Linked DNA regions of Homo sapiens. The protein of the gene in region 2 purifies or fractionates together with the protein of the main gene of each other region. This does not show direct contact. Each region holds a gene or a part of one and is shown on either strand. Other genes may lie near its edges.

What was found.
Region 1: the proteins of GLOD4 (region 2) and TALDO1 fractionate together in Homo sapiens (co-fractionation; one large-scale study listed by BioGRID). This does not show direct contact.
Region 3: the proteins of GLOD4 (region 2) and NRG1 purify together in Homo sapiens (affinity purification with mass spectrometry; one large-scale study listed by BioGRID and IntAct). This does not show direct contact.
Region 4: the proteins of GLOD4 (region 2) and OSBPL11 purify together in Homo sapiens (co-immunoprecipitation; one large-scale study listed by IntAct). This does not show direct contact.

The regions. Positions count from the first base shown.
Region 1 is NC_000011.10:758,408-764,463, reverse strand, and holds part of TALDO1 (transaldolase), read right to left. Parts: intron 5,515-6,056; coding exon 5,407-5,514; intron 4,343-5,406; coding exon 4,211-4,342; intron 1,121-4,210; coding exon 945-1,120; intron 718-944; coding exon 520-717; intron 177-519; coding exon 31-176; intron 1-30. UniProt on the Homo sapiens protein: Catalyzes the rate-limiting step of the non-oxidative phase in the pentose phosphate pathway. Catalyzes the reversible conversion of sedheptulose-7-phosphate and D-glyceraldehyde 3-phosphate into erythrose-4-phosphate and beta-D-fructose 6-phosphate.
Region 2 is NC_000017.11:761,057-766,837, forward strand, and holds part of GLOD4 (glyoxalase domain-containing protein 4), read right to left. Parts: intron 2,784-5,781; coding exon of another isoform or gene 2,634-2,783; exon of another isoform or gene 2,506-2,633; intron 1-2,505.
Region 3 is NC_000008.11:32,766,703-32,772,376, forward strand, and holds part of NRG1 (pro-neuregulin-1, membrane-bound isoform isoform HRG-alpha proprotein), read left to right. Parts: 3' UTR 1-5,674. UniProt on the Homo sapiens protein: Direct ligand for ERBB3 and ERBB4 tyrosine kinase receptors. Concomitantly recruits ERBB1 and ERBB2 coreceptors, resulting in ligand-stimulated tyrosine phosphorylation and activation of the ERBB receptors.
Region 4 is NC_000003.12:125,577,402-125,583,457, forward strand, and holds part of OSBPL11 (oxysterol-binding protein-related protein 11), read right to left. Parts: intron 5,578-6,056; coding exon 5,509-5,577; intron 2,640-5,508; coding exon 2,464-2,639; intron 1,639-2,463; coding exon 1,559-1,638; intron 1-1,558. UniProt on the Homo sapiens protein: Plays a role in regulating ADIPOQ and FABP4 levels in differentiating adipocytes and is also involved in regulation of adipocyte triglyceride storage. Weakly binds 25-hydroxycholesterol. Interacts with OSBPL9 to function as lipid transfer proteins.

The DNA.
Region 1 (6,056 bases), on a different chromosome or scaffold from region 2:
CATATGTAGGTACCCACACACAACACTCACTGTCAGCATCCGCTCCAGCTTCACTGCATCAGCGGCAAACTTGCGGATCCCGTCAGAGAGCTTCTCCACAGCCATCTGGTCCTCGTTGTGCAACCAACGGAAAGACTTCTCATCCAGGTGGATTTTTTCCAGGTCACTGGCTTGGGCTGGGGGACAAGAACCAGCCTTCCATGCCTGCTCCATGTCCCTGCCCACCTTGGCCCCTTGGGCTCAGGGCCTGAACTGCTGCACCCAAGCATCTCCCACCAGGGCCAGGCCTTGGCCCCAGCAAGGCTCACGCTGGAAGTGGGGTTCAGCCCACAGAGCCTTGGCTGATGACTTGAGTGAGATGTGTTAGGAAAGCCAAGCCCTCCGTTGAGGTCTACTTCACCCTCATGTCTCCCAAGATGAGCTCGCCCCACAGGTGGGAGGGATCACCCACAGGGCAGCGTGGCACGGCAGTGCTGGCCTTGCCCGAGCAGGAGCCACAGCTGGGCAGTGGGGCCTCACCCGCCTTGGCTGAGAGCACAGGCACCAGCTTGGCGTTGTCCTGCAGCAGCTCTCCCAGGAGCTTGGGTGAGATGGTGAGGAAGTCACAGCCGGCCAGTGCTTTGATCTCGCCCGTGTTGCGGAAGGAGGCGCCCATGACAATGGTTTTGTAGCTAAACTTCTTGTAGTAGTTGTAGATTTTAGTGACACTCTTTACCCCTGGAAAGAGACCAAGCTGTGACCAGGAAGGCTTCGGCAGAGGTACCACCCCACCTGCCCTCCCAGTGCCTGCCGGCTGCACTACCTTGAGCCGCCACCCCTGCCTGCCCCGCGCCGACCTGTGCACCTCACTGCTTGTTGATGCGGCAGCTCCGTCTCGGGCTCTTCCTGCCTGAGGTGCTGCTGAGGCTGCTCCCCTTACCCCATTACCACAGAGGGACCCTCACCAGGGTCTTCCAGGGGCTCATAGGATTTCTTGTCGGTGTTTGCCACATGCCAATCAAGGATGCGCCCAACAAATGGGGAGATGAGGGTCACACCCGCCTCGGCACAGGCCACAGCCTGGGCGAAGGAGAAGAGTAACGTCATGTTGCAGTGGATGCCGTGCTGCTCCTCGAGCTCCCTGCGGGGCGGGGACAGGTGAGGGCGGGGCAGGTGAGGGCGGGGACAGGTGAGGGCGGGGGCGGGTGAGGGCGGGGACGGTGAGGGCGGGGATGGGTGAGGGCGGGGGCGGGTGAGGGCGGGGGCAGGTGAGGGCGGGGCAGGTGAGGGCGGGGCAGGTGAATGCAGGCCAGGTGCCCACCCAGAGCCACAGGCTGCCAAAGACGCTCACGGGCCTTAAACTAAAAAGGCAGGAACAGGCTCATGCCATTGTTAAGAACAAATCGGTAAGACTCGAGGGCTCTAAGTGGATAGTGGGTTATGGGTGACCAGGATTTTCTCCAACCCACATGACACAATAGACAAAGGCAAGGGAGGCCCTCTGGGTGCCCGTGCTCTTGCGCCAGGCCGTCACCTCATCCCAGAACTCACCAGGGCTCAGCTCCCAGGCTAGAACCACTGAGTCATCTCTGACCACATTCCAGTCCTCACCCTGTTCCACCCTACCCATTCCTGGGGCCACCCTGCAGCAGGCCCGTAGCACCCTGGTTTCTGCTGAGAGGAGCCCCTTGGCCTCACTAGGCCACTTGCCCAAATCCCAGTGCACTTTGGACATCCTGGGGTTGATCCCCAAGGACGGAGCAGTGCCCATACTTTGCCATGTGGCTGGGGCATGGGATGAGACAGCCAAGGCTCTGCTCAGGCACCTTCAGACACAAGTTCCCTCCCCAGGCGCCTCTGCCACATGGCCACACGGGGGTGTTCGAGGGGGACAGCAGATGGCACAGCTGAGTTGGGAAACAGCCTGCAGTTCCTCCAGCAGTCACCCAGAGACTCCACTCCTAGGCATATGCCCACGAGAAACAAAAACACATGTCCAGGACAAAACTTGCACATCTGTGTTCAGAGCAGCAGATGTGTTCATAGCAGCAGATGTGTTCAGAGCAGCAGCATACATCACAGCCCGAGAAATGGAAACCGACCACAGCAATATACATCACAGCTCAAGAGATGGAAACTGACCAGGTGTCCACCAACAGATGAATAACTGTGGCCTATCCATAAAATGGAGTATTTTCCAACATATAAAAACAAATGGTCCGGCCAGGTGCAGTGGCTCAAACCTGTGATCCCAACACTTTGGGAGGCCGAGGCGGGCGGATCACCTGAGGCTGGGAGTTTGAGATCAGCCTGACTAACATGAGAAACCCCATCTCTACTAAAAATATAAAATTAGGCGGGAGTGGTGGCGCCTGCCTGTAATCCCAGCTACTCCGGAGGCTGAGGCAGGAGAATCTCTTGAACCCCAGAGGTGGAGGTTGCAGTGAGCTGAGATAGCACCATTGCACTCCAGCATGGACGAGAATGAAACTCCGTCTCAAAAACAAAAAAAAACAAAAAAACACACAAATGAGGCCAGGCACAATGGCTCATGCCTATAATCCCAGCACTTTGGGAGGCCAAGATGGGTAGAGATCTCTTGAGCCCAGGGGTTCGAGACCAGCCTGGGGAACGTGGTGAAATTACCCAGGAGTGGTATGTGTGCTTGTCATCCCAGCCACTTGGGGGACTGAGGTGGAAAGATAGCTTGAGCCTGGAGTCAAGGCTGCAGTGAGCCAAGTTCGTGCCACTGCACTCCAGCCGTGGTGAAAAAGTGAGATGCTATCTCAGAGCAGGTCAGTGATGGCAGGTGGTAGAACATGCAGACACACAGATGTGGAAACAAAACACCTCTTCCTGATGCGAATTATTTGAGTATAGCATTGGCTGCTTCTGGGTGAGAACATCATAGAGGAGTTTTACTTTGTTTTATACATTTTCTGTCTCTTCCACTCTGAACGTACATATGTTTGGTTTGGTTTTTCTGAGACAGGGTCTCACTCTGTCACCCAGGCTGGAGTGCAGTGGTACGATCATAGCTACTGGAACCTCAACTTCCCAGGCTCAAGCGATCCTCCCGCCTCAGCCTCCTAAGTAGCTGGAATCACAGGGGTGGGCTAGTTTTTCTTTTCTTTTTTTTTTTTTTTTTTGAGATGGAGTCTCATTCTGTCACCCAGGCTGGAGTACAATGGTGCAATCTCGGCTCACTGCAACGTCCACCTCCCAGGTTGAAGTGATTCTCCTGCTTCAGCCTCCCATGTAGCTAGGATTACAGGCACCTGCCACCACGCCCAGCTAAATTTTTTGTAGTTTTGGTAGAGACGGGGTTCCACTATCTTGGCCAGCCTGGTCTCGAACTCCTGACCTCAGGTGATCTACCCACCTCAGGCTTCCAGAGTGCTAGGATTACAGGTATGAGCCACCGTGCCCGGCCTAAAAGTTTTCTTTTCTTTTTGAGACAGAGTCTTGCTCTGTCACCCAGACTGGAGTGCAGTGGTGTGATCTCAGCTAACTGCAACCTTCGCCTCCTGGGTTCAAGCAATTCTCCTGCCTCAGCCTCCTAAATGGGACTACAGGTGTGTGCCACCATGCCCGGCTAATTTTTTATATTTTTTAGTGGAGTCGGGGTTTCACCGTGTTAGCCAGGATGGTCTCGATCTCCTGACCTCGTGATCCCCACGCCTCGGCCTCCCAAAGTGCTGGGAGCCACCGTGCCCAGCCTAAAATTTCTTTATATTTTTGTAGAGACAAGGTTTCACTTTGTTGCCCAGGCTGGTCTGGAACTCCTGGGCTCAAGTGATCCTCCCATCTCAGCCTCCCAAATTGCTGGGATTACAGGCATGAGCCATCTTGCCCAGCCAGCATATATTTTATATAACAATAGTTTACTTTTTAAAAATCATGTAAACATAGGCTTGTGTTGATCAGGACAGAGGAAGGACAGAATCTGAATCTGCAGGTGCTAACTAGTGGCTTTTCTTCTCTGCTGAGTGGGTGGATGGTACTTCCTGGGAAATCCCTCATTTCTGATCACCAGCAAGTGAGGGAGCTGGCTCTGGAGCAGAGGGCAGATCTAGGCTGACATGAGCTGGTCAAGTCCAAGCTGTGGGCTGTGCTCCCCAGTCTGGCATTCCCCAGGGCTGAGAGAGTCAAACTTGCCTGATGCCATGTAGACCCTGCTCCAACAGAGGAAAAATCTCTGAGAGCTCCTTCCTTGTGGGGGACCACTTACTTTCCAGCCTGAATTCCTTCCCAGGTTGATGACAGCTTTATAAGAATTCGGTCCTTGCTGATCCCAGCTTCCTTGTAGAGCTCGATGAGCCGCCTGGCTCTGGCCACCATCGCATCTTTATCAAAGGAGAGCCTGTAGGAGCAAGAAGAACCCATCCCCTCAGATCACGCAGGTTGCCCACCACGCAGAGCAAGCTGGAGGCCGGGTGTCTGCCTGTCAGTTTTGAGCAGCACCACCGTGAGCACCAACCACTGCCCTCAACCTTCCCCTCACTGGAGGTTTGCAGAATGGCTCTGACAGCAACTCACACCCAGTCTCACAAACAGAGGTCCTCAGTGGGATCCATAGGCTATAATTTGTATTAAAAAACACTGGGCCAGGTGCCGTGGCTCACGCCTGTAATCCCAACACTTTGGGAGGCTGAGGCGGGAAGATCACAAGGTCAAGGGATCGAGACCATCCTGGCCAACATGGTGAAACCCTGTCGCTACTAAAAATACAAAAAAATTAGCTGGGTATGGTGGCGGGTGTCTGTAGTCCCAGCTACTTGGGAGGCTGAGGCAGGAGAATCGCTTGAACCCGGGAGGTGAAGGTTGCAGTGAGCTGAGATCACACCACTGCACTCTACACTGGCAACAGAGCGAGACTCTGTCTCAAAAAACAAACAAAACAAATCAAAACAAAAAACACTAGCAGCCGGGCACAGTGGCTCATGCCTGTGATCCCAGCACTTTGGGAGGCCGAGGCAGGTGGATCATGACGTCAGGAGTTCAAGACCAGCCTGGCCAAAATGGTCAAACCCCATCTCTATTAAAAATACAACAAATTAGCTGGGCATGGTGGCAGGTGCCTGTAATCTCAGCTACTTGGGAGGCTGAGGCAGAGAAACGCTTCAAGCCGGGAGACAGAGGTTGCAGTGAGCTGAGATTGCGCCACTGTACTCCAGCCTGGGTGACAGTGCGAGACTCCATCTCAAAAATAAATAAAAATAAAAATAAAAAACACTAGAGATCAGTTGCTAAACAAGGAGCTCTTGGTCATCACTACCAACTGTGGGAGAGCTCAAAATAAACCTCCTCTTGGGCCCTTGGGATGAAGACCATGGGTGGAGCAGCCCCTTGACCTCATGTTGGCATCCACGTGTGCAACTGTGGACACCTGACCAGCCCATCCAGTGCAGGAGCAAGCATCCTTACCTTGCGTCTACTTCTGTGGATACTCGGCCCGGAATCTTCTTTAGTATTTCTGCTCCAAACAACACAAAAAGTTTATCAATAGCATTTTTAATCTGGTCCTCTTGTGACCTGAAATTCAAAGGGAAAAAAAGCAGGTTAGAAGCTTCTGAGGTTCGCCAGGTGCGGTGGCTCACGCCTGTAATCCCAGCACTTTGGGAGGCCGAGGTGGGCGGATCATGAGGTCAGGAGATCAAGACCATCCTGGCTAACACGGTGAAACCCCGTCTCCACTAAAAATATTAAAAAATTAGCTGGGCATGGTGGCGGGTGCCTGTAGTCCTAGTTACTAGGGAGGCTGAGGCAGGAGAATGACGTGAACCTGGGAGGTGGAGCTTGCAGTGAGCAGAGATCGTGCCACTGCACTCCAGCCTGAGCGACAGAGCGAGACTCCATCTCAAGAAAAAAAAAAAGAAGCTTCTGAGGTTCAAGTGCACAAGACTCTACAAAATAAATTCTGTTATTTCTTTGCCAAATTTCCTTCCCTCCATCTTTTTTTTTCTCTTAAAACATTTTTTTATTGTGGCCAAATAATACATATAACATAAAATTTCCCATCTTATCCTTTTTTTTTTCCCCCAAGACAGGGTCTCCAGCTAAGGCTGGAAGCACAG
Region 2 (5,781 bases):
ACCACGCTGGGTTCAGATGTGGCAGCAGAGACAGTCGGAAGCTTTGAGGAGTGTGCAGAACAGCTGAGAACTCAGATATGGAAACAAGTATTTTGCATGACAGAGTGTGTGTACGCATGTGTGTGTCTTGAAGCATTTGCTATAATATCTACCTCAGCAGGAAGTCACAAGATGAGGTGGCAATTGAAAAAGAAGAAACAAATATATTTATTATTTAGAAACAGTGAAGGTGAAAGTGGCTGTCCTAGGTAGTGTGACTCAGAGTTGGACCGTTTCATTTCTAAAAAATCTTAGTACTATCTGATTTATTATCTTGATGAAAATAAGAATTTAAAAATCAAAGATATGCTTAAAAAAACCACAAGTCACAAATATGCACGTTTCTGTCTTTTAGGAGCCATAAAAAGTGGGAGGAAAGAACAACTAAATTATTTGGAGAACCTAAGAAAGCTTTTTTTCTTTTTTGAAATGGAGTTTTGCTCTTGTCGCCCAGGCTGGAGTGCAACGGCGCCATCTCGGCTCACTGCAACCTCTGCCTTCTGGGTTCAAGTGATTCTCCTGCCTCAGCCTCCCAAGTAGCTGGGATTACAGGCGTACACCACCGTGCCTGGCTAATTTTTTGTGTTTAGTAGAGACAGGGTTTCACCATGTTGGTCAGGCTGGTCTGGGACTCCTGACCTCAGGTGAGCCACCCGCCTTGGTCCCCCAAGGTGCTGGGATTACAGGGGTGAGCCATCGCGCCCGGCTGAACCTAAGAAAGCTTTTAAGTGTTGAAGGACAAGTAAAAGAGGAGAGGGAAAAAACCCTTTGGGTTGGATGCAAGAAGAAGTATCTTAGCTAATATAACCAGTTCAGTGGGACTGGAATAGGGATGAGTTAGGGGACTTAGGGAGGCAGGTGGGAAAGAAGGTCAGAGGGTAGAGAATGTCCAAAAATGTCACATGCTCTGTCAGAGAGTTTGAAATTTATCTCAGAGGCAAGAGAGAGCTATCGGATTAAACGGTTTTAAAAATTACTGGCTGTTTGCTTTGGGACAGACCGTAAGTTGACAATGAGGCCTTTCAAAGGGAAAGCTGATAGGCAGAAGACATTTCAGAGGTAGAACTCACAGCTCTTGGTGACTAATAGCTAAAATAATTTAAGGATGAGGAGAAATAATGGTCAAAAGTGACTGTCTGTAAATCTAAAACGACTATTAAATGTTAAAAAACAAAACACAACAAAATAACACCAAAACTGGCTCTGAGGATTCCAGCGTGAACAACTGGGATCACAGACACGCTGTACTGTCCAGGGAGGGAGCAGGGCGCAGAGGAAGAAAAAGGACTAACTGTAAAGCCTGAAAGGCTTCCATCCAGGCCCCGGCCTGCACCTACTCAGTGCGTGATCTTCAGGGATGAAGGGGAATAATTTCATCACCATCCAGGCCCCGGCCGGCACCTACTCAGTGCGTGATCTTCAGGGATGAAGGGGAATAATTTCATCACCATCCAGGCCCCGGCCGGCACCTACTCAGTGCGTGATCTTCAGGGATGAAGGGGAATAATTATTTCATCACCATCCAGGCCCCTGCCTGCACCTACTCAGTGTGTGATCTTCAGGGATGAAGGGGAATAATTTCATCACCATCCAGGCCCCGGCCTGCACCTACTCAGTGCGTGATCTTCAGGGATGAAGGGGAATAATTTCATCACCATCCAGGCCCCTGCCTGCCACTTACTCAGTGTATGGTATTCAAGGGTGAGGGCCAATGACTTACTCATTCTTAGCCTCGGTTTCCTCATTTGCAAAGGCTGATGCTATCAACCTTGCAGGTTATATTAAGAATCAGAGAATGTGGCTGGGCGCGGTGGCTCACGCCTGTAATCCCAACACTTTGGGAGGCCGAGGCAGGCGGATCACGAGGTCAGGAGATCGAGACCATCCTGGCTAACACGGTGAAACCCCGTCTCTACTAAAAATACAAAAAAATTAGCCAGGTGTGGTGGTGGGCGCCTGTAGTCCCAGCTACTCGGGAGGCTGAGGCTGAGGCAGGAGAATGGTGTGAACCCGGGAGGCGGAGCTTGCCGTGAGCCGAGATCACGCCACTGCACTCCAGCCTGGGCGACAGAGCGAGACTCCGTCTAAAAAAAAAAAAAAAAAATCAGAGAATGTATATGAAGCACTTAAGGTTGGATGCGGTGGCTCACATCTGTAATCCCAGCACTTTGGGAGGCTGAGGCAGGTGGATCACCTGAGGTCAAGAGTTCGAGACCAGCCTAGCCAAAATGGTGAAACCCTGTCTCTACTAAAAATACAAAAATTAGCTGGACATGGTGGCGGGTGCCTGTAATCCCAGCTACTCGGGAATCCCAGCTACTCTCCTGAGGCAGGAGAATCACTTGAACCTGGGAGGCGGAGGCTGCAGTGAGCTGAGATCACACCACTGCACTCTAGCCTGGGCAACAGAGTGAGGCTCCATCTCAAAAAATAAATAAATAAATAAAAATAAAGCACTTAAGAACGTACCGATATAGTAGCATTTATTTCTTTTTATTTTTATTTATTTACATATTTTTAGTATAAATAGAGAGTTCATCTGGGCCAAGCTTGAAGACTGCAGCCCGGGAACATAGATTCAGGTTTCCCAGAATCTACACTCCCAAGTAGCCTTTATGTAATATTACTGGAAGAAGAATGGATTTGAGGTAAGATAAGTTATGGACACGCTGAGTCTGATATGTGGTAGGTTTCCTAGGTGAAGAGGTTCTCAGGATATAACATCGGTCTGGACAGAGAAAGTGCTACATGTAAGAGAAAAAGTTCATAAGCTGGACTTCACCAAAATAAAAAATTCCTCATCTTCAAAAACTCAATTAATGGCTGGGAAAAATACTTGAATTTGCAAGTGACGAAGGAATGATGAAAAACTACAGTACAGAGTCAAGGTAAGAGTCACGTAAGGCTCTGTCGTACTCTCTTCGGTTGTGCATATTTGGAATTTTCATCATGAAATATTAAAAATTATTAAAGAATGGACAAAAGACTTGAACATAAAATTCACAAAAATAAGTAAATGGCTAATAAGCACATGAGAAGGTGCTCAATATCATTAGTCATCAGGGAAATAAAAATTAAACCTCTGTGGGGCCGAGCTGGAAGGATCACTGGAGGCCAGCCTGGGCAACACAGTGAGAATCTGTCTCTACAAACATAAAAAACATCAGCTGGGCATAGTGCTGCAGCCCTAGCTATGTGGTGGCTGAGGCAGAAGGATCGCTTGATTGCACCAATGAAACCATTTCGCATGTGCTAGAATAGCTAAAAAACCCACAAAAAGCAAAATAAGTGTTGGTGAGAATGTAGACCTACTGGACCTCTCGTGGACAAACGATGGTCCGATCACTTTCGATGACTGTTTGACACTTTCTTATACAGTAAAAGCAGTTCTACTCCTAGGTATTTACTCAAGAGAAATGAAACATCTATCTACAAGAAGATTTACACTAGAATGTTCATGGCAGTCTTCCTTATAATAGATTAAAAAATCTAGAAATAAACCAAATGTCCACCATTATAAGAATGAATGAGCAAATTGTTATATTCATAAAATTGAGTATCAGTCAGCAATTAAAAAAAAAAGAGCTGTGATATGCAATTACATGGTGGAATCTCAAAACCATGTTGAGTAGGCCGGGCGCGGTGGCTCACACCTGTAATCCCAGCCCTTTGGGAGGCCAAGGTGGGTGGATCACAAGGTCAGGAGATCGAGACCATCCTGGCTAACACGGTGAAACCCGTCTCTACTAAAAATACAAAAAATTAGCCGGGCGAGGTGGCAGGTGCCTGTAGTCCCAGCTACTCGGTAGGCTGAGGCAGGAGAATGGCGTGAACCCGGGAGGCGGAGCTTGCAGTGAGCAGAGATTGTACCACTGCACTCCAGCCTGGGTGACAGAGCGAGACTCCGTCTCAAAAAAAAACAAAAAACAAAAAACAAAAAAAGCCATGGTGAGTAAAAGCAGCCAGGCACAAAAGGAAAGAAAATACTGAATGACTCCATTTGTATGAAGTCCAAGAACGAACTCACCTACAGTGACAGAAGTCAGAATAGCAGCTGATCTGGGAGATGAAGGTGCCAACTCACTGGAGATGGGCATGAGGGAACTTCCTGGGAAAATGGTCTGTATTCTGAGTAGTGGTTGTATGAGTAAACACAACCGTCAAAACACATTTAAATTCTACCTAAATTATGCCTCATCAACAACAACCACCTGTCTGAGCTGAGGAAGGAGTTAAAAACTGGAAGTGAGGAGGCTGGAGCCAGGATGATGGTTACGTTCAGGGCAGAGGTAAGGAGAGGTCGCAGGTAAGCTCTCATCAGAGTGGAGGAAGAATGCAGAATGGGAAAAACAGCAAAGTAGGGCTATGGGTATAAAAACACTTTGGGATGAGACACAGAAAGAGGTGCCCGTGTCTGAGGAGAAACTGTCAGGAAGATGAAAATGGTAGGATGGCCAGGCGCAGTGGCTCACGCCTATAATCCCAGCCCTTTGGGAGGCCGAGGAGGGTGGATCACCTGAGGTCAGGAGTTCAAGAGACAGGGTTTCACCGTGTTAGCCAGGATGGTCTCGATCTCCTGACCTTGTGATCCGCCCGCCTCGGCCTCCCAAAGGGCTGGGGTTACAGGTGTGAGCCACCGCACCCGGCCTACTCAACCAGCCTGACCAACATGGTGAAACCCCATCTCTACTAAAAATACAAAAATTAGCCAGGTGTGGTGGTGCGTGCCTGTAATCCCAGCTACCAGCTACTCAGGAGGCTGAGGCAAGAGAACTGCTTGAACCTGGGAGGCAGAGGTTGCAGTGACCTGAGATCGCGCCACTGCACTCCAGCCTGGGCAAGAGAGTGAGACTCCCAACTCAAAAAAAAGAAAAATGGCAGGATCGCTAACAGCAGAGGAGAAGAGAGCTCAGGGAGCAGGAGTTCATCAATGGTTCACATCTATAATCCCAGCACTTTGGGAGGCCAAGATGGATCGAATGATTGAGCCCAGGAAGTTTGAAACCAGCCTGGGCAACATGGTGAAACCCCATCTCTAGAAAAAATACAAAAATTAGCCAGGCATGGTGGCGCACGCCTATGGTTCCAGCTACTAGGGAGGCTGAGGTGGGAGGATCACTGGAACATAGGAGGCGGAGGTTGCAGTGAGCTGAGATCATGCCACTGCACTCCAGCCTCGGTGACAGAGAGAGACCCCGTCTTAAAAAAAAAAAAATGGGCCCAGGCGTGGTGGCTCACGCCTGTAATCCCAGCACTTTGGGAGGCCAAGGCAGACGGATCGCCTGAAGTTAGGAGTTCAAGACCATCCTGGCCAACATGGTGAAGCCCCGTCTCTACTAAAAATACAAAAATTAGCCAGGCGTGGTGGCACGTGCCTGTAATCCCAGCTACTTGGGAGGCTGAGGCAGGAGAATCGCTTGATCCCGGGAGGTGGAGGTTGCAGTGAGCCAAGATTATGCCACTGCACTCCAGCCTAGTTGACAGAGCAAGAATCCGTCTCAAAAAATAAATAAAATAAAATGGGCCAGGCACAGTGGCTCACACCTGTAATCCCAGCACTTTAGGAGGATGAGGTGGGTAGATCACTTGAGGCTAGGAGTTTGAGACCAGCCTGGCCAACCTGGCAAAACCCTGTCTCTACTAAAAATACAAAAATTAGCCAGCATGGTGGCAAGTGCCTGTAGTTCCAGCTCCTTGGGAGGCCGAGGCAGAAGAATCGCTTGACCCTGGGAGGCGAAGGTT
Region 3 (5,674 bases), on a different chromosome or scaffold from region 2:
GAAAATTGAAGACAAGAGGAAATTGTATTTCTAACTTGATTCTGATCACTCACAGAGGTGGCATATTATTATAGTTGGGACATCCTTTGCACCCTTCATAAAAAAGGCCAGCTGACTGCTCAGCATCACCTGCCAAGGCCACTAGATTTGTGTTTACAGGGGTATCTCTGTGATGCTTGTCACATCACTCTTGACCACCTCTGTTAATAAATTCCGACAGTGCAGTGGCGATCGGAGTGTGAACTTATGTTCCCAGCATATGGAAAGCTATCTTAGGTTTTAAGGTAGTAGAAATTGCCCAGGAGTTTGACAGCAACTTTGTTTCCCGGGTCTAAAATCGTATCCCACTGAGGTGTATGCAGTGGAGCATAATACATGCAAATACATGCAAAACTCCTTTTGTTTCACCTAAGATTCACTTTCTATCTTACTTTCCCTTCCTGCCTAGTGTGACTTTTGCCCCCAAGAGTGCCTGGACAGCATTCTAGTTTCTACAAAATGGTCCTCTGTGTAGGTGAATGTGTCCCAAACCTGCTATCACTTTCTTGTTTCAGTGTGACTGTCTTGTTAGAGGTGAAGTTTATCCAGGGTAACTTGCTCACTAACTATTCCTTTTTATGGCCTGGGGTTAAAGGGCGCATGGCTCACACTGGTGAAAATAAGGAAGGCCTGGTCTTATCTTGTATTAATAATACTGGCTGCATTCCACCAGCCAGAGATTTCTATCTGCGAAGACCTATGAAACACTGAAGAGAAATGTAGGCAGAAGGAAATGGCCACATATCACAAGTTCTATTATATATTCTTTTGTAAATACATATTGTATATTACTTGGATGTTTTCTTATATCATTTACTGTCTTTTTGAGTTAATGTCAGTTTTTACTCTCTCAACTTACTATGTAACATTGTAAATAACATAATGTCCTTTATTATTTATATTTAAGCATCTAACATATAGAGTTGTTTTCATATAAGTTTAAGATAAATGTCAAAAATATATGTTCTTTTGTTTTTCTTTGCTTTAAAATTATGTATCTTTTCCTTTTCTTTTTTTTAAGAATAATTTATTGTTCAGGAGAAAGAATGTATATGTAACTGAAACTATCTGAAGAATGCACATTGAAGGCCGTGAGGTACTGATAAACTAAAGAATTTATTATTCAAAATACTAAGCAATAAGTAATTGTGATTTATTTAAAGTTTTGTCCATTTTCCATGAAAGACATACTGCAATAAAAATGCTACTCTGTGGAGACCTGGGAGTGTTGCTCAGCAGACTACAGCTTCAGTCTGTTAGACCAGCACCTTTCATCTCATTCCCATAGTTATGCTAATTTAGGATTGTGTTCCATGGACCCCATGATCACCTTGTCTATACGTTGCTTCTTGTCTGTCCATTGCTTTTGCCACACCACCTGTTCTCAAATCATCTCCTCCCTACCAATGCTGTTTATCACTTTCTTCCTTGTTGAAGAGGCCACACAACCAGACAGTACTATGCTTCCTTTTTCCTCCATACACAATAACAGAGAGAGAATATTCTAGGGCATGACTGCCTGGATCCTGGCTGTTGCTATCTTTTGTAGTGGCAGTAAGAAACTCCTTCAGACTAATGAAAATGTCAACGTGCCATTCAATCACGAAAGGTAACGAAAAATGCTCTCATGGTTCAAATAGTCCAATGGCCCATAGTGGCCTAAAAGGCAGCCAGTTGACACCTGGCCATGCTAAGCTTCCTTATACCATCCGCTAATGACTTTCCATTGGGCCCACAATTTACGGATTCATAATTTTAAAAGAGGAGAAGGCCAAGTTAGGTTCATTCCCCTTATTCTGTCAATAAAACAAATCAAACTCATGTCTATCTAACTGCTCAGGGAGGAGCCTTTGCATGAGAAAATTCTCATATTCTAAGACTGAGTCATAGAAATGAGGGTATTACTTTTCTTACTGCAATTAACCTAAACAAAAGCCATATTTTAACAAATAGATATTTGCATGGTACCCTTCATATATTCCAAGCATTTCACTCATTATTCCAGGTAGGTTAAGAGCTTCTGAAGTGTATGAAGTAAAGGTCAGCAATCCTTTGGGGTGAACAGTGGCCTCCTTTGGAGTTTGGGGGTAACCTGAGACTTCCCACCAATGTCCACCTCCATCTGTGTACCTAATTCCTATTACCTAGTTATGGCTCCTCTAGGATCATTTCCAAACACTCTGGATGTCCAGGAAATTTAAATTGTAGCTTTTGACTGAGCTAGTTTTTCCTATTTATATTAATAAATTTTCAAAAATGCTTGAAATCTTCACATTTGCAACAACTTTAGTTTTCATGCACATACAAACACAGAGAGACAAAAATTCCAAACAGACACTCTCCAAAAGCCACCACACTCTTTCACTTGCTCTATAGTCATTTAGCCAACCAGCCATGCAGAGAATATTTAAAACTTAAAGATTGAGACATTATTCTCAGTTTTTGCTGAGGCTTTGTAACGAAATTGAACACTATAAGCAGCTATTGTAGTAATTTTGGTTAAAATTGTTTGCCTGGGATATAGTATTTGAGGCAGAAGCACGTGTGTGAAGGAGGTGAGGTGGTTTGGAAAGAGTGAAGACTCGCAGCCAGATTGAATGTCTGGATAATTACTATAATTCTCCCTTCTTGGTTGAAACCATGTTCTCTCTTGATTTTTAAACCCAGGCTGCCTCTGGAAACAAGCAAACCTGAGTCTTTCTAACCTGAGTCTTCCCAATCATTAGATTTCTTTTCTGTCCTAACGATGAATGATAAAAGGACTTGATGTTCACAATTTGGGGTTATAAGGCAGGTCTGAAATCTGGAGACTCAAGATGCTGGAAGGAGTGGAAAGTTTCGATGACTTTATATGAATCACTTTGCACTCTATGTTTGGCTTGTCCTCTTTGAAACTGATTTACTAAAATAAATGTAAGGGAACTATTACTCCAAAAGATTAACTTGGCAGGAAATACCAATACTTTCAGTTTATGAAAGACAAAACTGTCTTGTTGCTACAGGAAGCTGCAATGTTCCTAACCTTTAAGGTTGGTGTTGAATAGGGTGGTCATGCCCTCCCCTGCAGGTATCTTTAGGCTCCTGTTGACCTCCTGGTACTATAACTGTTCGTCTTCTCTGGGTAGCTATTGATTTTGAACTTTAACATGCTTCAAAACTTTATTCATCAGGGAAATAGGAAAAGAGTTTTGTTACCTGGAGGAAATCTATTGTGATCTACCTGAGCTTTTTAAAAACAGACCAGGAGAAGGAAACCAGTAATTTTTAAAGAAGAGACAGAGAATGGGATAATAGTTTCACCCAGGATCTCTTTCTAACCCTTTCCCTTCAAATGAACTTATTGGAACAGAATTGGAAAGAAGAAAGGACATCTCTGCCCACCCCACAGGATGCCAAAAAGGCTAAAGAATTACCTCTGTAGATTTAAACATCTTTAATGGCTTATGTATAGATTTGCTAATACAGAGAGAAATGAACTATTAAATAAAAATCACATTTTATAATATTTTTATGGCTTAAAACATCCTTTATCTCCTTTTTGTTCTCTCTACATGATATGGTAAGTGATGAGGAAAATTTAGGCTCAGGAAGGTTAAAATCTTTCTTGGAGTTACACATCTAAGAGAGCTGCAGAGCTGACACTTGTACCCAGGTTTTCTGACTGCAAATCCAGTTTCTTTCTATTGCGTTCTTCCCCTTTCCCTGCCTCAAGCAGAAACAGGTTTTTTATTTTCAACCTTTATGTATACAGTATGTTATGTTACATCTACAGCTAAGTTTCTTTTTAGAAGAATGTGAGCCCTTCTAGCTTTGGTTTAGAGTGATTCTAGAAGCCAATTTCCTTGGCTTAGTGATTCTATGCACCTTTCCTAAACTTAGCTTTCTAAGGAAATGAAGTGTACGAGTGAGAATGAATTCACAATTTCGACATGTAGGTAGCATCCTAAAGTGAAAAGAGGAGGAAATTTGTGGTCAAAGCACTCTCCCCACCACTTAGAAACTTACTGACTGTGGGCAGCTTCCTCCTCCAAGTTTCCTTCCTGATTTACAAGACCGTGGTGTGGTCAGGATTAAACTTGAATACATGTAAGGAAGCCTGAAAGTGTCTAACACATAGCGAGTATTCAAATGCCACCTTCTATTTGATCCTTCCCCTCCAGTTCCTTAAGTTTTGGAATCTAGGTTTCTCAGTTCCAAATGGATTGACATTTGCATATCCCCATTGCACAATGGATCAAATAAACTTTATGTTATCATTTCTCCAACATAGTGCCAGTAAGCAAATCCTTTTTAATAACAACAGTATGTTGAGAAACATATCACCAAATAATATTTAACTTTGTAGCTTTGATAAGTTCTTTAGGTTTTGGTTTTGGTTTTGTTTTCTGAGACAGGGTCTTGATCTGTCACCCAGACTGGAGTGCAATGGTTCAATTTTAGCTCACTGCAACCTGTAACTCCTGAGCTCAAGTGATCCTCCCACCTCAGCCTCTCAAGTAGCTGGGACTACAGGTGTGCTCCACCATGCCCAGCGATTTTTTTTTTTTTTTTTTTTTTTTTTTTTGGTAGGGACAAGGTCTCGCTATGTTGCCCAGGCTGGTCTTCAATTCCTGGCCTTAAGTGATCCTCCTGCCTCGGCCTCCCAAAGTGCTGGAATTACAGGCATGAGCCACCACCCATAACTTTATGTTTGTTTTTTTGATGCAGTATAAGTTCAGCTTGCTTCTTATGCAGCCATACCATTTCATGTTAACTCTGATTTTTAGCAGCTTATTACATTAGTGTTTTATTATTAATATAATTTTACAGAAATTTACTAAACCATGACTCTGTAGAGTTTTAATAATACTACCTCCAAACATCATTGCAAACATCTAGAAGAATGAACAAAAATGATCTTAGATCGACAGTATATCTGTTTGTCTTAGTTTCTACACAGGATGTTCAGACATATTCCATTTCTTTAAAAAAAAAATATATATATATATATATATATATAGGCCTGGCACGGTGGCTCATGACTGTAATCCCAGCACTTTGGGAGGCTTAGGCAGGCAAATCACCTGAGGTCAGGAGTTTGAGACTGGCCTGACCAACATGGTGAAACCTCGTCTCTATTAAAATTACAAAAATTAGCCGGGCGTGGTGGCACATGCCTGTAATCCCAGCTACTCGGGAGGCTGAGGCAGGAGAATCACTTGAACCTGGGAGGCAGAGGTTGCAGTGAGTTGAGATCACGCCATTGCACTCCAGCCTTGGTGACAAGAGTGAAACTCCGTCTCAAAAAAAAAAAAAATATGTATATATATATATATATATATATATATATATATATATATATATATATAAAATCCCACCAAAAGTCTGCAGAGTGACCAAATTAGACGGCTCTGGTTTCAGATTAAATTCTAAATGTGAGAAACCACATAGCTCCCATGATCCATCCAATAATTCCTCACGTCCTCTTCACTCTTTACTCCATGCATAAAACAGAATTTTTTTTTCTCATCCTGGGTATGAAGCAATTAATAATTTACGGATTTAGCCTATTTGGATTCAATCCCTTCAAACTCCATACTACATCCAAGGTGGAAGTGACTTAAACTCTGATATCAATCATCAGGCTTGTAATATA
Region 4 (6,056 bases), on a different chromosome or scaffold from region 2:
AAAGGTGCTCAACATGATTAGTCATTAGTAAAATGAAATCAAAACCACAATAAGATTCCACTTCATATCCACTAAGATAACCATAATAATTTTTTTAAAGGACAATAACAAGTGTCGGCAAGGATGTACAGAAATTAGAACTCTCGCTGGGCGTGGTGGCTCACACCTGTAATCCCAGCACTTTGGGAGACTGAGGCAGGTGGATTGCCTGAGCTCAAGAGTTCGAGACCAGCCTGGCCAACATGGCGAAACCCCGTCTCTACCAAAAATACAAAAAATTAGCCGGGCGTGGTGGCAGGTGCCTGTAGTCCTAGCTACTTGGGAGGCTGTGGCAGGAGAATTGCTTAAACTCGGGAGGCGGTGGTTGCAGTGAGCTGATATCGTGCCACTGCACTCCAGCCTGGGTAACAGAGTGAGACTCCATCTCAAAAAAAAAAAGAAATTAAAAAAAGAAATTAGAACTCTCATATATTGTTGATGGGAATGTAAAAAAGTGTGGCCGCTTTGGAAAACAGTTTGGCAGTTCCTCAAAATGTTAAACATAGAACTATCACGTGATCCAGCAATTCTACTCCCAGACCCTAGAGAAATGAAATCATATGTTCACATAAAAACTTGAACACTTATAATGTTATTCATTAAAATAATGAATGTTTTCATTATGAAAACTTGAAAGTGTTCATGGCAGCATTATTCATAATGCCTACAAAATGAAAATAACCCAATGTCCACCAATTGATGGATTAAAAAAGTAGTATATCTATACAATAAAATATTACTCAGTCTTAAAAAAGGAATAAACGAATAAAGTACTGATACATGCAACAACACGGATGAACCTTGAAAACATGCTAAATGAAAGACACCAGATACAACAAACCCCATATTATATGGTTCAATTTACATAAAATGCCCAGAATAGACAAATCCATGGAATAGAAAAGAGAGTTTGCTAGGGGATTGGGAAGGAGAGAACAGGGAGTGACTGCTAGTGGCTCCGGATTTTTTATTTTTTTTGTGGGAGAGATGACAATGTTCTGAAATTAGAAAGCTGCAATTTGGCCAGGTGCGGTGGCTCACACCTGTAATTCCAGCACTTTGGGAAGCCAAGGTGGGCGGATCACTTGAGGTCAGGAGTTCGAGGCCAGCCTGGCCAACATTTTTAGTAAAGAAACAACTTTTTTTAGTAAAGAAACCTGTCTTGACTAAAAGTACAAAAATAAGCTGGGTGTGGTGGTGTGTGCCTGTAGTCCCAGCTACTTGGGAGGCTGAGACAGGAAAATCACTTGAACCCGGGAGGCAGAGGTTGCAGTGAGACAAGATTGCGCCACTGCACTCTAGCCTGGGCCACAGAGAGAGACTCCGTCTCAAAAAAAAAAAGAAAGTTACAATGGTTGAACCACCTTGTGAATATACTAAAAACCACAGGATTATACGTATATACTTTAAAAGGGTGAATTTTACGGTATATGAATAGTATCTCAATTTTAAAAGGCAAAAAATAAAAAATATTCCTTCCTCATTTTTGTATATTAATATTGTATATAAATCTACATACCTTTCCAATAGCTTCAGTATGATGCTGTGTACATATCTGAAGTCTGCTAACCCAGTGCTGTCGCTCTTTTGCATCTGTAGCTGTTAAAAGAATGTAAAAATTATTTTATATTTATTTATTCTGGAACACAATTAATTGCCTACAGTATGAAGATCAGATCACTGAAAAGCAGATACTGGTCTTACTCTCACTAGAGCAAACTTCCCTGACTGGAGGGAGGCAGGAAAGAGGCCAAAGCACCAACGTTGTTAGGGAACACAGTAGCTGGATGTAGTTACTTCATTAAAAGGAGAAATTACATGCAGTGAGGTGAGGATGAGAGACTGACATGTTGCAACTCATAAAAATAGGTTCTTATTTAAAGAAATAACCCCTTAATTATTTGATGTATAATCAATACTTTCAGATCTGCAGGAGCACGCTCACTTAGGATTACCATTATACTTTGTGTATTCATTAAATAAAAAACTTCTACACAAATTAAATTTATCTTAACAGAAGTTATACGTTATTTTAATGAATGACATTATAATAAATCCCAATAATGTACATTAGTTACTGAAAACTGCAAAAAGGGCACGTAAACTAAACCAAGTAAAGGGGTGAAATACATAAAAAATATCATTTAAAGTCTATGTTTCTAGATTTTCAGTAATCAGAGTTTCACCTACACCGTTTTTCAGAGGGGCCAGTCCTAAACAAACATACATTGTCCCACTTGAAAACAGTTACTTATTACAAAAGATTTCATAAATTCTCAAAGCAGTTCCAAGGTTCAGAATATTGTATTTACATCACTGATGACAGCAGTTTCTATTTCCAAAGCCCATATGAAAGCATGTAAGACACCAACTTCTCAAAAAAAGAGGAAAATCACAGTATTAATTCTCATATTTTGGTCATACCTCTGAGTTTATATTGTTCCCCACTGGCAGCGTTTACAGTGAAGGTGTGAGAATCCTCATCACTGGGTGATATTACAGCTCCTGCAAGCTGCAAAGTTCCTCTAGGTTTCTGATTTCTAGACTGTTCATTCACAAAGTACTCCAACAGCCCAGCTTCATTGTTTAAAACAAAAAACCTGTAATGATTTTTTAAAATCCATAATTTGTAAACATTTTCCCTCAGCAAACTAAAGCAAAGCAAACTTCAATCACTTACACATTTCAGGGTTTTGCTCTTAAAAATAAAATTTAAAAGCATTTCAAGAGGTACCTGGAAACACTACACTGAATTTTCCAGCAGGGAAGATTACTAAAAATCGAATGAGTTAGGCCAGGCGCAGTGGCTCACGCCTCTAATCCCAGCACTTTGGGAGGCAGAGGCGAGCGGATCACCTGAGGTCAGGAGTTCGAGATCAGCCTGGCCAACATGGTGAAACCCCATCTCTACTAAAAATACAAAATTAGCCAGGTGTGGTGGTGCATGCCTGTAATCCCAGCTACTCGGGAGGCTGAGGCAGGAAAATCGCTTGAATCTGGGAGGCAGCGGTTGCACTGCACTAAGATCGAGCCACTGCACTCCAGCCTGGGCAAAAAGAGCAAAACTCCGTCTCAAAAAAAAAAAAAAAAAAAAAAAAAAATTGAATGAGTTTAATAAAAGATATAATAAACCCTTCAGCTGAGGGAGAGGCATTTATTAAGAGGCCTATCAGTTAATGCACAAAAGGAAGCAAAGATACCATATCCTTTCAGAGACAGATTTTTCCCCAGAATTCATTAACAGAGGGTAAACTGCCAAAGGACAAATGGTAGTGAAAATTTTTCTTTAAAATTCACCGGAAATAAATCAAAATATGAGCTCTGAGGTTAAGGCAAGATATACTAGGCAAGATATGCATTGTGATTTAAGAATTAGTGAAATATACAACAAGAATAACAGGGTAAAAAAGATTTTGTGAATGAATCATTAAATAAGTCAAAACTAAAGATTACTTCTCCTGTTTAAAAATGAAAAAGCTGCAATTGGAGATGCTGAAACATAAGGACCTTGAAACTAAATGATGAAATGCTGATACACTCTGGAAAAGAATTTGATGAAATACTAATACACTTTGGAAAAAAAAATTCTGATTTGGTTCTAGATTAACTACTTTCAAAAATACATTTCAGAAATTCCAATTTAAGTAGTGTAATAATTTTTTTTTTTTTTGAGATGGAGTCGTGCTCTGTTGCCCAGGCTGGAGTGCAGTGGCACCACCTTGACTCACTGCAACCTCTGCCTCCCAGGTTCAAGCGATTCTCATGCCTCAGCTCCCAAGTACCTGGGATTACAGGCGCCCACCACCATGCCCAGCTAATTTTTGTATTTTTCGTAGAGATGGAGTTTTGCCATGTTGGCCAGACTGATCTCAAACTCCTGAACTCAGGCGATCCTCCCGCCTCGGCCTCCCAAAGTGCTTGGATTACAGGTGTGAGTCACCTCATCTGGCCCCTTTTTAAAAAAGGAACGCTAGGCCAGACACGGTGGCACACACCTGTAATCCCAGCACTTTGGGAGGCCAAGGCGGGTGGACTGCCTGAGCTTAGGAGTTTGAGACCAGGCTGGGCAACACGGTGAAACCCCGTCTCTACTAAAATACAAAAAACTAGCTGGGCGAGGTGGCGTGCACCTGTAATCCCAGCTACTTGGGAGGCTGAGACAGAAGAATCACATGAACCCTGGAGGCAGAGGTTGCGGTGAGCTGAGATTGCACCACTACACTGCAGCCTAGGTGACAGAGTGAGACTCCATCTCAAAAAAAAAAAAAAAAAAAAAAAAGTAACTCTAAAAAGGGCTGGATGAGTTGAGATTGCTTGAATCCAGGAGTTCGAGACCAGTCTGGCCAACATGGCAAAACCCTGTCTTTACAAAAAAAAATACAGAAATTAGATGGGTGTGGTGGTGCATGCCTGTAGCTCCAGCTACTTAGGAGGCTGGGGCAGGAGGATGATTTCAGCCCGAGGTGGAGGTTACAGTGAGCTGAGATCATGCCACTATACTCCAGCCTGGGCAACAGAGCAAGACCCTGTCTCAAAAATAATTAATTAATTAATTAATATAAAATAAAAAGTAACTCTAAAAAGTTTTAAACTTTTAAAATTCATGTTGGGTGGCCAGGTGTGGTGGCTCACGCCTGTGATCCCTGCACTTTGGGAGGCCAAGACGGGTAGATCACCTGAAGTCAGGAATTCGAGACCAGCCTGACCAACATGGTGAAACCCCGTCTCTATTAAAAATACAAAAATTAGCTGGGTATGGTGGCGCATGCCTGTAATTCCAGCTACTCAGGAGGCTGAGACAGAAGAATCACTTGAACCCCGGAGGCAGAGGTTACAGTGAGCCGAGATCATGCCATTGCACTCCAGCTGGGTGACAGAGCGAGACTCCGTCTCAAAAAAAAAAAAAAAATTCATGTTTGGGTTTGGAGAAGTCTGGCATTCTACGTTAGCCTGTTCTATAATAGAACTTGGTAGACAATTTGATCCCGTTTAATATGCCTGCCCCACAACTACAATTCTATAAAGTATTTGAGATAGCTGGTTTTCCTGCTTCCTGACAGCTTGTGTGACCCTTGGCTGGTTACTTAACCTCTTCAAGATCCCAGAGAAGCTGTGAATCTGGCATAAGATGGGAACCTAACACAAATGTGTTTGCTGTCTCCAAACCCCTATTTCTCTTCCCCTAAGAACCTAACTTCTGCAAGTATACAATGCCCAAGCCAGGTAACAAGTGATTCTAATCCTCATTTAATAGTAACATCTGAGGCATTTAGAGGCTGCTACTTGGACAGATGTCAACTTTTCCCACCCTCTAAGAAGAAGTCACCAAACTTTTAGAAGCTGTGGGAAATCCTTCTCTAAAAGGTTTCCCAGCCATGTCTGTCTAAAGTAATATCAAAATATAAAATTATTGGGCCCTATTCCTGCTCTCTTAGGAGAGACTGATGTGACACAAATAATCACACTTACCTGTACTGCCACCCAGTGACAAGGTTGGTATACTTCATTAAATAGCCATACACATTTTCCATGTGATCACTATTTCAAAATGAAAAAGCCAAAGTTAGTAAAAATTAGAAGAAATCCCAGGAGGATAATGGTACAATTTTCAAAATAGCTGCAGATACATATATGCTCTATAAATGCCTCAAATTTTATTGAGAAGTAAAATGTATAGGTCAACAGAGGCATTTAATCTCCCAAATTTCATATCTATAGGACTTCATCAATTTCCTCAAAACAAGTACAATACCTCATAAATTATATATTATTATAAATATTCCAAATGTAAAATCATTATACAAATATAAAATTACATAAACATAAAACAAATATACTATAAGTATTATAAGTGGGATGGCCGGGCACAGTGGCTCGAACCTGTAATCCCAGCACTTTGGGAGGCCAAGGCAGGAGGATCACTTGAGGTCAGGAGTTCAAGACCAGCCTGGTCAACATGGCGAAAACCCATCTCTACTAAAAATACAAAAATTCATCGGGCGTGGTGGTGTGTGCCT